Linked DNA regions of Homo sapiens. Changing the gene in region 3 together with the main gene of any one other region gives a genetic interaction. Each region holds a gene or a part of one and is shown on either strand. Other genes may lie near its edges. The genes, in order: RRM2, CHEK1 and PARP1.

Region 1 (3,241 bases), on a different chromosome or scaffold from region 3:
CAGCAGAGCAAAACTCCAGCTGGGAAGACCTCTAGCCCCACCTGTTTTGCAAACGGGAAAAGAGCCCCAGGAGTGGCTCCCCCACGGTTGAGAAGTTAACTCAGCCCCGGCTTCACAAACCCCACGTGCAGTATGGCAGTTAGTATTTTTGGGCACCACCTTTCGGGTGTACCTGTCTCCTATACACCTTGTGCCAATAGGCACAAGGCAAGTCTCTTGCCCAGAACCAGTGGAAAGCAAATGAATTCGTTAGCCTTTACAAAAAACACCTTTTTTTTTCAGACAGTCTCACTCTGCTGCCCAGGCTGGAGTGCAGCGGTGCAATCTCAGCTCACTGCAACCTCTGCCTCCCGGGTTCAAGTGATTCTCCTGCCTCAGCCTCACGAGTAGCTGGGATTACAGGCGTGTGCCACCATGCCAGGCTAATTTTTGTATTTTTAGTAGAGATGGGGTGTCACCATGTTGGCCAGGCTGATCTCGAACTCCTGAGCTCAGGTGATCTGCCTACCTTGGTCTCCCAAAGTGCTGGGATTACAGCCATGCCTGGCCAAAAAATATTTCTCTTCCTGAATTAAAATGCAAATTTTACCAATCAAGAAACTGACATAAGAACAGTTTTATTTTAATCACTTAAGACTTGTGCATTATTCAATTTTGAGACTGAAATACTTGTTTCCCTTTCAACTGATTAGGAAATGGTCTGAGCTGGCAGAAGTTAATCCTCACATTATTCAGCTAATGAGAGACAGAATCCTAAAACCTGATTCCAACTTCCGCCTGTACCTCACAATGCAAGACAAAGCCTTTCATTTTAATGTTGTACACATATAAGGACCATATAATCTGGATTAACTTTAGGTAACAATAACTTAAAAGATAGGAAAATGTATCATATTACAGAGATTTAAAAATTGTCTATACAATAAATGATGAAGAAAACTAACAATAAACAGGACGACGTTCAAATACTGAATACAATTAACAAATGGGGCCAAAAGATCAACATTTATCTCTCATCATCTTTCATGCAATGTCTCAGCTTTCTTCTCCCAAACATAAAGGCAGATTAATTCAAAGTAGCCCTATTAAGAATATTTGTTTATCACGCCTGCAATCCCAGCACTTTGGGAGGCCGAGGTGGGTGGATCACCTGAGGTCAGGAGTTCAAGACCAGCCTGACCAATATGGTGAAACTCCATCTCTACTAAAAATACAAAAATTAGCCAGGTGTGGTAGCACATACCTGCAGTCCCAGCTACTAGGGAGGCTGAGACAGGAGAATTGCTTGAACCCAGGAGATGGAGGTTACAGTGAGCCAAAATCGCGCCACTGCACTCCAGCCTGGGCAACAGAGCGAGACTCCATCTCAAAAAAAAAAAAAAAAATTATGTTTCATTCTGAAATTAATATTTGAATGGAAACTGTATTAACAGCTCATGGTTTCCTACTAAAGTTTAAGATCCCCCTAGACAATGCTCAGATTTAGACAATGCCAGAATAAGACACTGGGTGACTGAAGTATGAACTACAGGTAAAATCTAGAAGAACATAGATAATAAAAAATTTCTGATTTAACAGACATAGTAAATATAAATGAATTAACTCACACAACCTACTTACACCAAACAAAACTAGAATGAACAACTTGTAGGAACCACCTCTAGTTGATTTCACCACTTAACAGGGGCAAGATCTTAGGTGGATCATTTTGTTTAAGGATGACTTGAAATTTTACAATACTACCTTAGCTCCCACATATGAAAACTCTTCAAGAATTTTTTCTCATCAACCAGACGTTGAGGAAAATACAGTGAGAAATAAAATGAAACGGCTTCTCACACATATGAAGGCCCAGATCACCCCTAAATTTCTAGTGATTTAACTTAAGAAGCTCCTTGCCCTGAGAGATTCCTTTATCCCACAACACTCTACTCAGAGGGGGCAGAGAATCCCAGGACACTACACAAGCCACAGGATAAAAACACAACCTGTCTTCTATCTGGCACCAACTGACTAATATCTAGGTATACACAGGACTGACTTTAAAGTTGGTTAACAAATATTTTAATTCATTAAAATAAAACTTAAAAATTACATGCTTAGTCTACACAAGTTTAACTTACTTTAGTCACTTAGTGAATTGTGAATTGGCTCCCATTAGTGGTCAGGAGAATGTATTTGGTGTAGAAACCAAATAAATCAAGCTATTATCGCCTTGTGAGTACAAACAATGTTTATTTGTTTGTAAAGTGCCAGGTTTATATTTAAGTAAACATTAAAATCTGCGTTGAAGCAGTGAGGCTGCATCTTTTAACTGGCTGTGCTGGTTAAAGGACTGTTTAATCCCGCTGTGCTAAGCTCACTAAAGGGTCACCCCTCACTTTAAAGCCAAGACTGCCATTGTCACTGCTATGGTAAGTCACAGCCAGCCAGGCCTTCTGGCAAAAGGTGATACTACCAGCACTATAAACAGACAGGACTGGTTGTGAGGTAGCTACACAGTTTTAAAGATGCTGTTAATGAACATTACGGACAATTCATGGTGTGGCTAGTTGGTAACACTTCAGCTGATTTTTCTTATGAGATGGAAAAAAAAAATCAGCCAAGTAAGGGCACATCTTCAGTTCATTTAGAAGTCAGCATCCAAGGTAAAAGAATTCTCTGTTGGACTTGACATCACTCCCATCCTCTGATACTCGCCTACTCTCTTCTCAAAGAAGTTAGTCTTTCCTTCCAGTGAAATATTCTCCATAAAGTCAAATGGGTTCTCTACTCTGAAAACCTGAAAAGGTTCACATCAAGATATAAATACAGAGCACCAGCTTCAAAACAAGCAAAAGGCTATGTAAACAATACTTTACCTTGCTAAAACCCAGTTCCAGCATAAGTCTGTCTGCCACAAACTCAATGTATTGCTTCATTAGAGTGCAATTCATCCCAATGAGCTTCACAGGCAAGGCCTCAGTGAGGAACTCCTAGGAACCAAAATACAGCTTCTGAATACAACTAAAGCACAGGCATTTTCTAGCAAGCTTGAGTGACCCATTTCATCACCCACTTTACCTGTTCTATCCGAACAGCATTGATAATTATTTCTCTTACTCTCTCCTCCGATGGTTTGTGTACCAGGTGTTTGAACATCAGGCAAGCAAAATCACAGTGTAAACCCTAGAAAAAAAAGTTCAAGATCACTAAAGCCAGAAGACTTCTGTCATTAACATGGAATATGAAATTACTTTGT
Region 2 (3,653 bases), on a different chromosome or scaffold from region 3:
GAAACGTGTTGGATTGCGTATGTCCACAAGAGAGTAAAAATTTTAAAAATTTAAGAAATGTGTTAGAGGGAAGAGGATACCATTTTAAATAGCATGGCCAGGAAAGGCTTATTGGAAAGATGACACTGAAGTCAATATCCAAAGAAAGTAAGAGAATAAGACATGCAAATAAGTCCCATGGGAAAAAGCATTTTCAGACATAGGAACAGTCACTACAAAAACAGTGAGGTAGAAGTGTGCCTAGAGCACTTGGAGAACAATAAGAAGAACAACAATATGACCAAGGGGGAGCAAAGCAGAACTGAGGTTGGAGAGGTAATGTAAGGAACAAAATTGTGTAAGAACTCACAGGTCATGAACTGATTTTAGCTTACACTACACGTGAGAACTAAAGCATTGGAGGATTTGGGTAGAATAGTGATATATTCTAATTCACTTTTAAATCAGAACATTTTGGAAAGATATCATGGTAATTTGGAATGATAGGGTAACAGTAGAGGTAAAAAAAAAAAAGGTAATCAGATTCTAAGATTTTTTTAAAGATAGAGGTTAACAGAATTAGCTGGTGTACTGGATGTGAAGTAAAAGAGAATGAGAAAAATGAAGGATGATTCCAAAGTTTCTGATCTGCATAATAAGAATAATGCAGTTGCCATTAACCAACATGGGAAAGACTTTGAAAAGGAATGGGTTTGAAAGGAAAAGATCAGTAACTCAGTTTGGAATTCATCAAGTGTGAGATGCCTCTTAACATTCAAGTGAAATTTCAGAAGGCAGTTAAGACATGTAAGTTTGGAATTCAGAGGAAAGGTCTAGGTTGATATAAATGTGACTATCAACATATAGTTTTATTTAGAGCCATGAAACCAAGTAATATCACTAATGGAGTGAGTGTGGAGAAGAAAACAAAGGAGATCCATAGATTCAGCCCTGGAGAACTCCAATAGTAGGAGGCTGAGCAGATGAAAAAAAACCATCAAGAGACTGAAAAGAGCGACCAGTGAGAAGGACGAAAATCAGAAGAGTGTAACGCCTGGAAGCCAAATGAAGAAAGTGTTTAAAGGAGGAGGGCATGATCAACTGTATAAAATATTGATGAGATAAAACAAGAGGTCTGAGAACTGACTACAGTAGTACCCCCCTTATCCACAGAGGGATATGTTCAAGTGGATGCCTGAAAGTACAAATGGTACCAAACCCTATATATGTTCTTTCGATCTAATAACCAAAACAGCTACTAAGGGAGTTACAAGCAGGTAGCACATGGAACGTGAATACACTGGAAAAAGGAGTGATTCACATCCCAAGTGAGATGAAGTAGGACAGCACAAGATTTTATTATGCTACTCAGAACAGCACACAATTTAAAACCTATGGCAGGGCATTGTGGCTCATGCCTATAATCCCAGTACTTTGGGAGGCCGGGGTGGGTGGATTGCTTAAGCCCAGCAGTTTGAGAACAGCTGGGATTACAGGCGTGAACCACCACACCTGGCTAATTTTTGTATTTTTGGTAGAAAAGCATAGGCAACATGGCGAAACCTCATCTCTACCAAAAATACAAAAATTAGCCGGGCATAGTGGCTCACACCTGTAGTCCCAGCTACTCGGGAAGCTGAGATGGGAGGATCATTTAAGCTCAGGAGGTAGAGGTTTCAGTAAGTGGAGACCACGCCACTGCACTCCAGTCTGGGCGACAGAGCGAGATCCCGTCTCGAATTAAATAAATAAATAAAACCCATGAATTTCTTTTTTTTTTTTTTTGAGACGGAGTCTCGCTGTTGCCCAGGCTGGAGTGCAGTGGTGCGATCTCGGCTCACTGCAAGCTCCGCCCCCCGGGGTTCACGCCATTCTCTTGCCTCAGCCTCCCGAGTAGCTGGGACTACAGGCGACCGCCACCTCGCCCGGCTAATTTTTTGTATTTTTAGTAGAGACGGGGTGACACCGTGTTAGCCAGGATGGTCTCGATCTCCTGACCTCGTGATCCGCCCGCCTTGGCCTCCCAAAGTGCTGGGATTACAGGCGTGAGCCACCGCGCCCGGCCAAAACCCATGAATTGATGAATTGTTTACTTCTGGTACTTTCCATTTAATCTTTTCAGACCTCGGTTGACCACAGTGGACTATTACATTGAACTTGGCAACACGTTCCAAAAATCACTGTGACTCTTGGCAACAAAATAGATGAAATTGAAAACTAGTTTTGAGGTGTTAGAGATGAGAAGCAATTTTAGGAATATTCAATTGTGAAGAAGATGGAATGGTAGGGAAAAGTGGAGTTAAGAGAAATTTTATTACCATTATGATTTGATTTTAAAATGGGAGAAAAAGCATGTAGATATGCTGATGAGAAAGATCCGGTAGAGAAGGAAAAATTAATAATGTAGGAGAGGGAGAAAAATTGCTAGACAAAGTCATTGAGTGGGTAAGAGAAAGACCTGGCTTACATCCAGAGCAATTTATCTACAGCAATACAGGATGAAAGAGAATACATGAGCATAGAGGCAGTTAGTATGGAGGAGATGGTGGTGGGAGCTTGCCTAAGTTCTCTTGTGGCTTTCATTTCCCAGTGACACAGGAAGCAAAGTGAACAACTGAGAGTGAGGATGGAGAGAAGATAATAAAAGTTAAGGGACCAGACACAGTAGCTCACACCTATAAACCCAGCACTTTGGGAGGCTGAGGCAGGGGGATCACTTGAGGCTAGGAGTTTGAGACCAGCCTGGCCAGCATGGCAAAACCTCTACTAAAAATATAAAAATTAGCCAGGTGTGGTGGTTCACACCTGTAATCCCAGCTACTCGGGTGGCTAAGGCACGAGAATCGAATCGCTTGAACCTGAGAGGCAGAGGTTGAAGTGAGTGGAGATGGCGCCACTGCACTCCAGCCTAGACCCTGTCTCAAAAAAAAAAAAAAAAAAAAGAGAAAAGTATTATAAAAACGTGATTTAGGAGAACAGGACAGAGAAAGATGTGGGGAAACGAAGGCCAAATGCCAGGAAGCATTAAGGGCCCACTTGAGATTAGTAATCCTGAATTTAAAGTGAACATTTTTGGGTATTTTTCTCCTGCTGCAATCTGTTGTGCAGGTACAAGTGTGCAGTACGTAGAAAACTACTAGATTAAACCCAGAAACTACTTACTGGGTTTTACCCACTAAGTATGATGAAGAGAGAAGGGGACAAGGAAATTGAAGATGATGAACGCAAAGCAGTCATTTATAATGACTAACCTAAAGATTTAAGATAGGTAAAGATGAAATCAAGGACCTAGAGAGGGAGCAGGTAAGAGACTGAAGAGATAGAATTAATTAATTGCAAGTCCAGATACAAAGGACTGTTTAAGTTAGAATATTAAGGGAGGAAGTCAGAAAAAATTATACTGGTGATCAGTGCAGCGTGTTCAAAGACAACATCACTATAGGAGAGAGGGTCAAGAAACAGTGAAGTCAGGATATCAGGAGGATGATCCAAATAAATATTTAAATCACCAAGAATCATGACGAAAATAACATCAAGAGTCATTTTGCAGACTGTGATAGTACGGCAGAAATTTTAATTTGGGGTTCAAAAGTTAGAGGGGAGAGACATAAAGGAAGATGGGAGAAAGTGACAATGAAGAATAAGGAGGACACCTGTACCATGTCCAGATCAAA
Region 3 (3,653 bases):
AGACCTACAGTGGTAATCAGCATAATAAACCCACACAGAAACCTGTTTAGCTTTGTTTTACCCTACCTTTTCCAAACATACTTGAACCTTGAACTTCTGTTTTGGCAGATATCTATGCACATCTTACAGAGCAGTGCGAAGTGATGAGAATACAGGTTGAGCAGCTTCCCTTATCCGAGATGCTTGAGACCAGAAACCTTTCAGACCTTAAAATACTTGCTTCATATTTACTGACTGAGCATCTAATCCAAAACTCTGAAATCTGAAATGCTCCAATGAACATTTCCTTTGAGCATCATGTTGTCACTCAAAAAGTGTTGAATTTTGAGGCAATTTGTTTGGGCTTCGGGACTAGGGAGACTCAACCTATAGTAGCTTACCGTCTTTAGTTGAGAACACGCAATGCATGTGAATCTACAGTACAAAGCAGCAACACTGAGAGCAAATACTGGTTTCCCTTCATAAAGAACCACAGCGATGATGATGTTAAGATCCAGTTTTTCAGCGCTGTGTTCGACTCTTCCTCACTTACTCGTCATCACAATCATAAGATACAGAAGCATTGTCCCTGTTGCACAAATTCAGATTCAACTCACTTTTGGTGCTGATGCACAGGGAAGCCTTGTTGGCCGTCCCCGTCAACTTCCCCCCGAGTTTCTCAATCATGGCCTTCACTTCATCCTTGTTCCGGGACAGCTTCCCGAGAGTCAGGATCTTCATGTTGGATAATGGCTTATCTGGGATGAAAGGAGAGAATCATTCAGCAAGGCCAGCTCTGGTGCTGCTCCCCAGTAAGGGGAGGTGGAGGAGCAGGTGAGCCAAGCAGCGAGCTCCTGGGAAAAGCCTATGAAAATACACTCGCGAGAAAACAGGACGGGACAGCAAGCTGCCACCTGAGTACCTACAGATGTCCCTCAGCACAGAAAGGACTGGGCAGGGAGCAAGCCACAAAATGCCACTCCATGGCCAGGCCAGCCTCGCGGCGTGAGCCAGGCAGCTGCGGGTTACCCCAGGTCCGCGCCAAGGTCAGGCTAGGAAGGCTGCATCTGCGGACGAGGGACCAGGAGGCTGGAGTCGGATGGGAAGAGGGGTAAGGTCACATGAACCCCCAATTCCTTCTGTTATTCTCCCAAACAAACTGCAATTCTTATGAATTAACCCCATTTTAAAATGAGACATGTCCATGATAGTCCCTCAAAGCAGTGGCCAGCACAATCACACGGAGCTGAGCTAACTGATTCTAGGAGAAAAGCAGCAGCCTGGTGTGCACTGACCCAGGCCAGAAAGGCCTGGACAGGGGTGTGCCTTCTGTTCACAGCAAACAACACAGTGCAGGTGACACCCGTCCAGAACTGGAGTAGCTGCAAGGAAAAGTCCTTCCTGCCTTCCCTGTGAGGGCAAACAACTAGGAAACACTGACAGTTTAACTGAAACTGCTGAGGTCTCCAGAGAACAAAATTATTGACTCATGCTGAACTGCAAGTCAGGGGAAAGCAGAGGAGGGAACCCTCCATGGAGGGGTCAGAATGCCAGCCCCCAACTGGCCCTTCATGTGGGCACCTGGACCCAGGCTGCCAGCAGCACAGTGGACTCGGGATGACCACCAGCACACACTGCAGTGACCACTGGTCCCCTCTCAGGATATGAAAAGGAAGTCAATAACAGGTTTATGTTCAAGGAAGGAACCCTCATCCTCCACCCACCAAACTGTGACCTTCACCAATAGACTATGCCACATGTCTCTGAGTAAACAAGCAGCGGGTCACTTCTCCTGCCAAAAAAATACGTTGCTCTCACTGTCTTGGTTGGCTTGGGGCATTTCTCACTAGTGCTGATTAGTAACTCCCTCTGCATACAACAGAGACTTGAGCATCACACCAGGGCCCGGATGACTGGTGGGCGCAGGGCAGCCTGGAGAGTGAGGCCTGGGATGCTCCTCTGCAGTGCAGTCAGGCAGGAGACCCTGCGCCCAACTCCAGGTAAGGCTGTCGACCTAGCCTTTCTTAGGAGCCCCTCTCCTAGCCTCCCAGAGTAAGAGCTGCTTGTTCTTCTACAATGTTTATTTTATTTTTAGAGATAGGGTATCACTCCATCGCCCAAGCTGGTGTGCATTAGCGTGATCATAGCTCAGTGCAGCCTTGACCTCCCAGGCTCAAGGGATCCTCCGCCTCAGCCTCCTGAGTATCTAGGGCTAAAGGCACATACTCGGATTAATTTTAAACATTTTTGTAGAGATGGGGTCTCACTACATTGCCCAGGTTGGTCTCAAACTCCTGGCCTCAGCAATTCTTTTGCCTCAGCTTCCTAAAGTGCTGGGATTACAGGTGTGAGTCACTGCTCCCAGCCGATGCTATGTTCTTAACACTCTCCCACCTTGCTGTGGTCAGGGGTGTAACAAGCCAAGAGAAGAGGCCTATCCCCTGCAGGGCAAGGCTTCCCCATGGTGGGGTCAGCAAAGAGAGACCCTTGACGGATACTTTCTTCACCAGCTCCACACCACCAGCAAGTAGTGGGCAAACAATTCCTGCAAAGCAGCTCTAAGACCGGGGTCCCAAATGCTGTACCTGCTGAAGCAGAGGAGTTCACAGCAGCAGGAGCCGAGGCTGTGGAGGGCGGAGGCGTGGCCGCCACGGAGGCGCTGGTTTCTGGGGGGAATATACGGTCCTGTTTTTTAACCTTCAATTTCTTGAGGTAAGAGATTTCTCGGAATTCCTAAAAAATATTAAGTTTTAGTTAAGAAGCCAGCTCTCCCTTGAGGTAACCACCCCATAGACCAAAGAGGATTTGGCTTGTCCAAATCAAATAATCTCTTTTTTTCTTCTTACAATAAAGAGTAACAAAAAATAGAAAAATGTGAGGCTTTAAGGATGAAAGACAGTATTATTGCTGCTACAGTACTTATTTCCGGTACTTTTACATTTATAATAGGGCTAATATTGTGGCTGCTTTAAGAGAAAAATCTTTCCCTAAAAAAAACAAAAACAGAAACCAGTGGCCAATTCGGTCAGGGAACCACCACTGGAACTGCTGTATGACTACAACCTCCCTGGCCTCATTCCTGAGTTGCTCCCTTCGAGAGTTAATAGGCCTCTGTGGGATCACATGCCTACTCCAGAACTCCAAGACCCCGAATACTATATACACACTGGGAGATTATTACCCAAAAGGAAATCACAGTATTTGCTTTCCTTTTTAGAAGAAGGAAAAATGAATGCAGGGAGCCCTATGGTATTCACTATAAATTCTTCCATCAGCACAATTCACTCTTCACTCTGACTGATTTACAAGGGGCCTTGCTCTAAATGGTCACTCAATAAGTATCAAATACATGAAGCTCAGGGAAAGATACTGTGCTCCCAGGTCTTCATCCAATCAAGAAACTGCCCTTTCCAGCTATGCCTGTGTTCAGGATGTCAGTTAGATACAAGAGGTCACAGATTGCTTCCGACACACACAGACCACCTAATATGTGCTACCAACCATAGTCTGGTTAAAAAGACAGTTTCTGCTCTTCAGAAAGTATCTCATTCGTGACTGAGCATCAGCTATAGGAAGGTGAACTTTAACAAAGGAGCTAAGCTATGCCAGAGGTGTGCCAAGGTGATGTGAGACAGGGAATGCTAGCATGCACTTGGAGGCAGTGATCTGCTAAG

Evidence for each region.
Region 1: changes in PARP1 (region 3) and RRM2 together harm fitness more than expected from each alone (negative genetic interaction), as found in Homo sapiens cells (one large-scale study listed by BioGRID).
Region 2: changes in PARP1 (region 3) and CHEK1 together harm fitness more than expected from each alone (negative genetic interaction), as found in Homo sapiens cells (one large-scale study listed by BioGRID).

The regions. Positions count from the first base shown.
Region 1 is NC_000002.12:10,128,775-10,132,015, reverse strand, and holds the end of RRM2 (ribonucleoside-diphosphate reductase subunit M2), read right to left. Parts: intron 3,169-3,241; coding exon 3,064-3,168; intron 2,976-3,063; coding exon 2,862-2,975; intron 2,783-2,861; coding exon 2,630-2,782; 3' UTR 602-2,629; downstream 1-601. UniProt on the Homo sapiens protein: Provides the precursors necessary for DNA synthesis. Catalyzes the biosynthesis of deoxyribonucleotides from the corresponding ribonucleotides. Inhibits Wnt signaling.
Region 2 is NC_000011.10:125,638,651-125,642,303, reverse strand, and holds part of CHEK1 (serine/threonine-protein kinase Chk1), read right to left. Parts: intron 1-3,653. UniProt on the Homo sapiens protein: Serine/threonine-protein kinase which is required for checkpoint-mediated cell cycle arrest and activation of DNA repair in response to the presence of DNA damage or unreplicated DNA.
Region 3 is NC_000001.11:226,380,472-226,384,124, forward strand, and holds part of PARP1 (poly [ADP-ribose] polymerase 1), read right to left. Parts: intron 2,713-3,653; coding exon 2,565-2,712; intron 738-2,564; coding exon 597-737; intron 1-596. UniProt on the Homo sapiens protein: Poly-ADP-ribosyltransferase that mediates poly-ADP-ribosylation of proteins and plays a key role in DNA repair.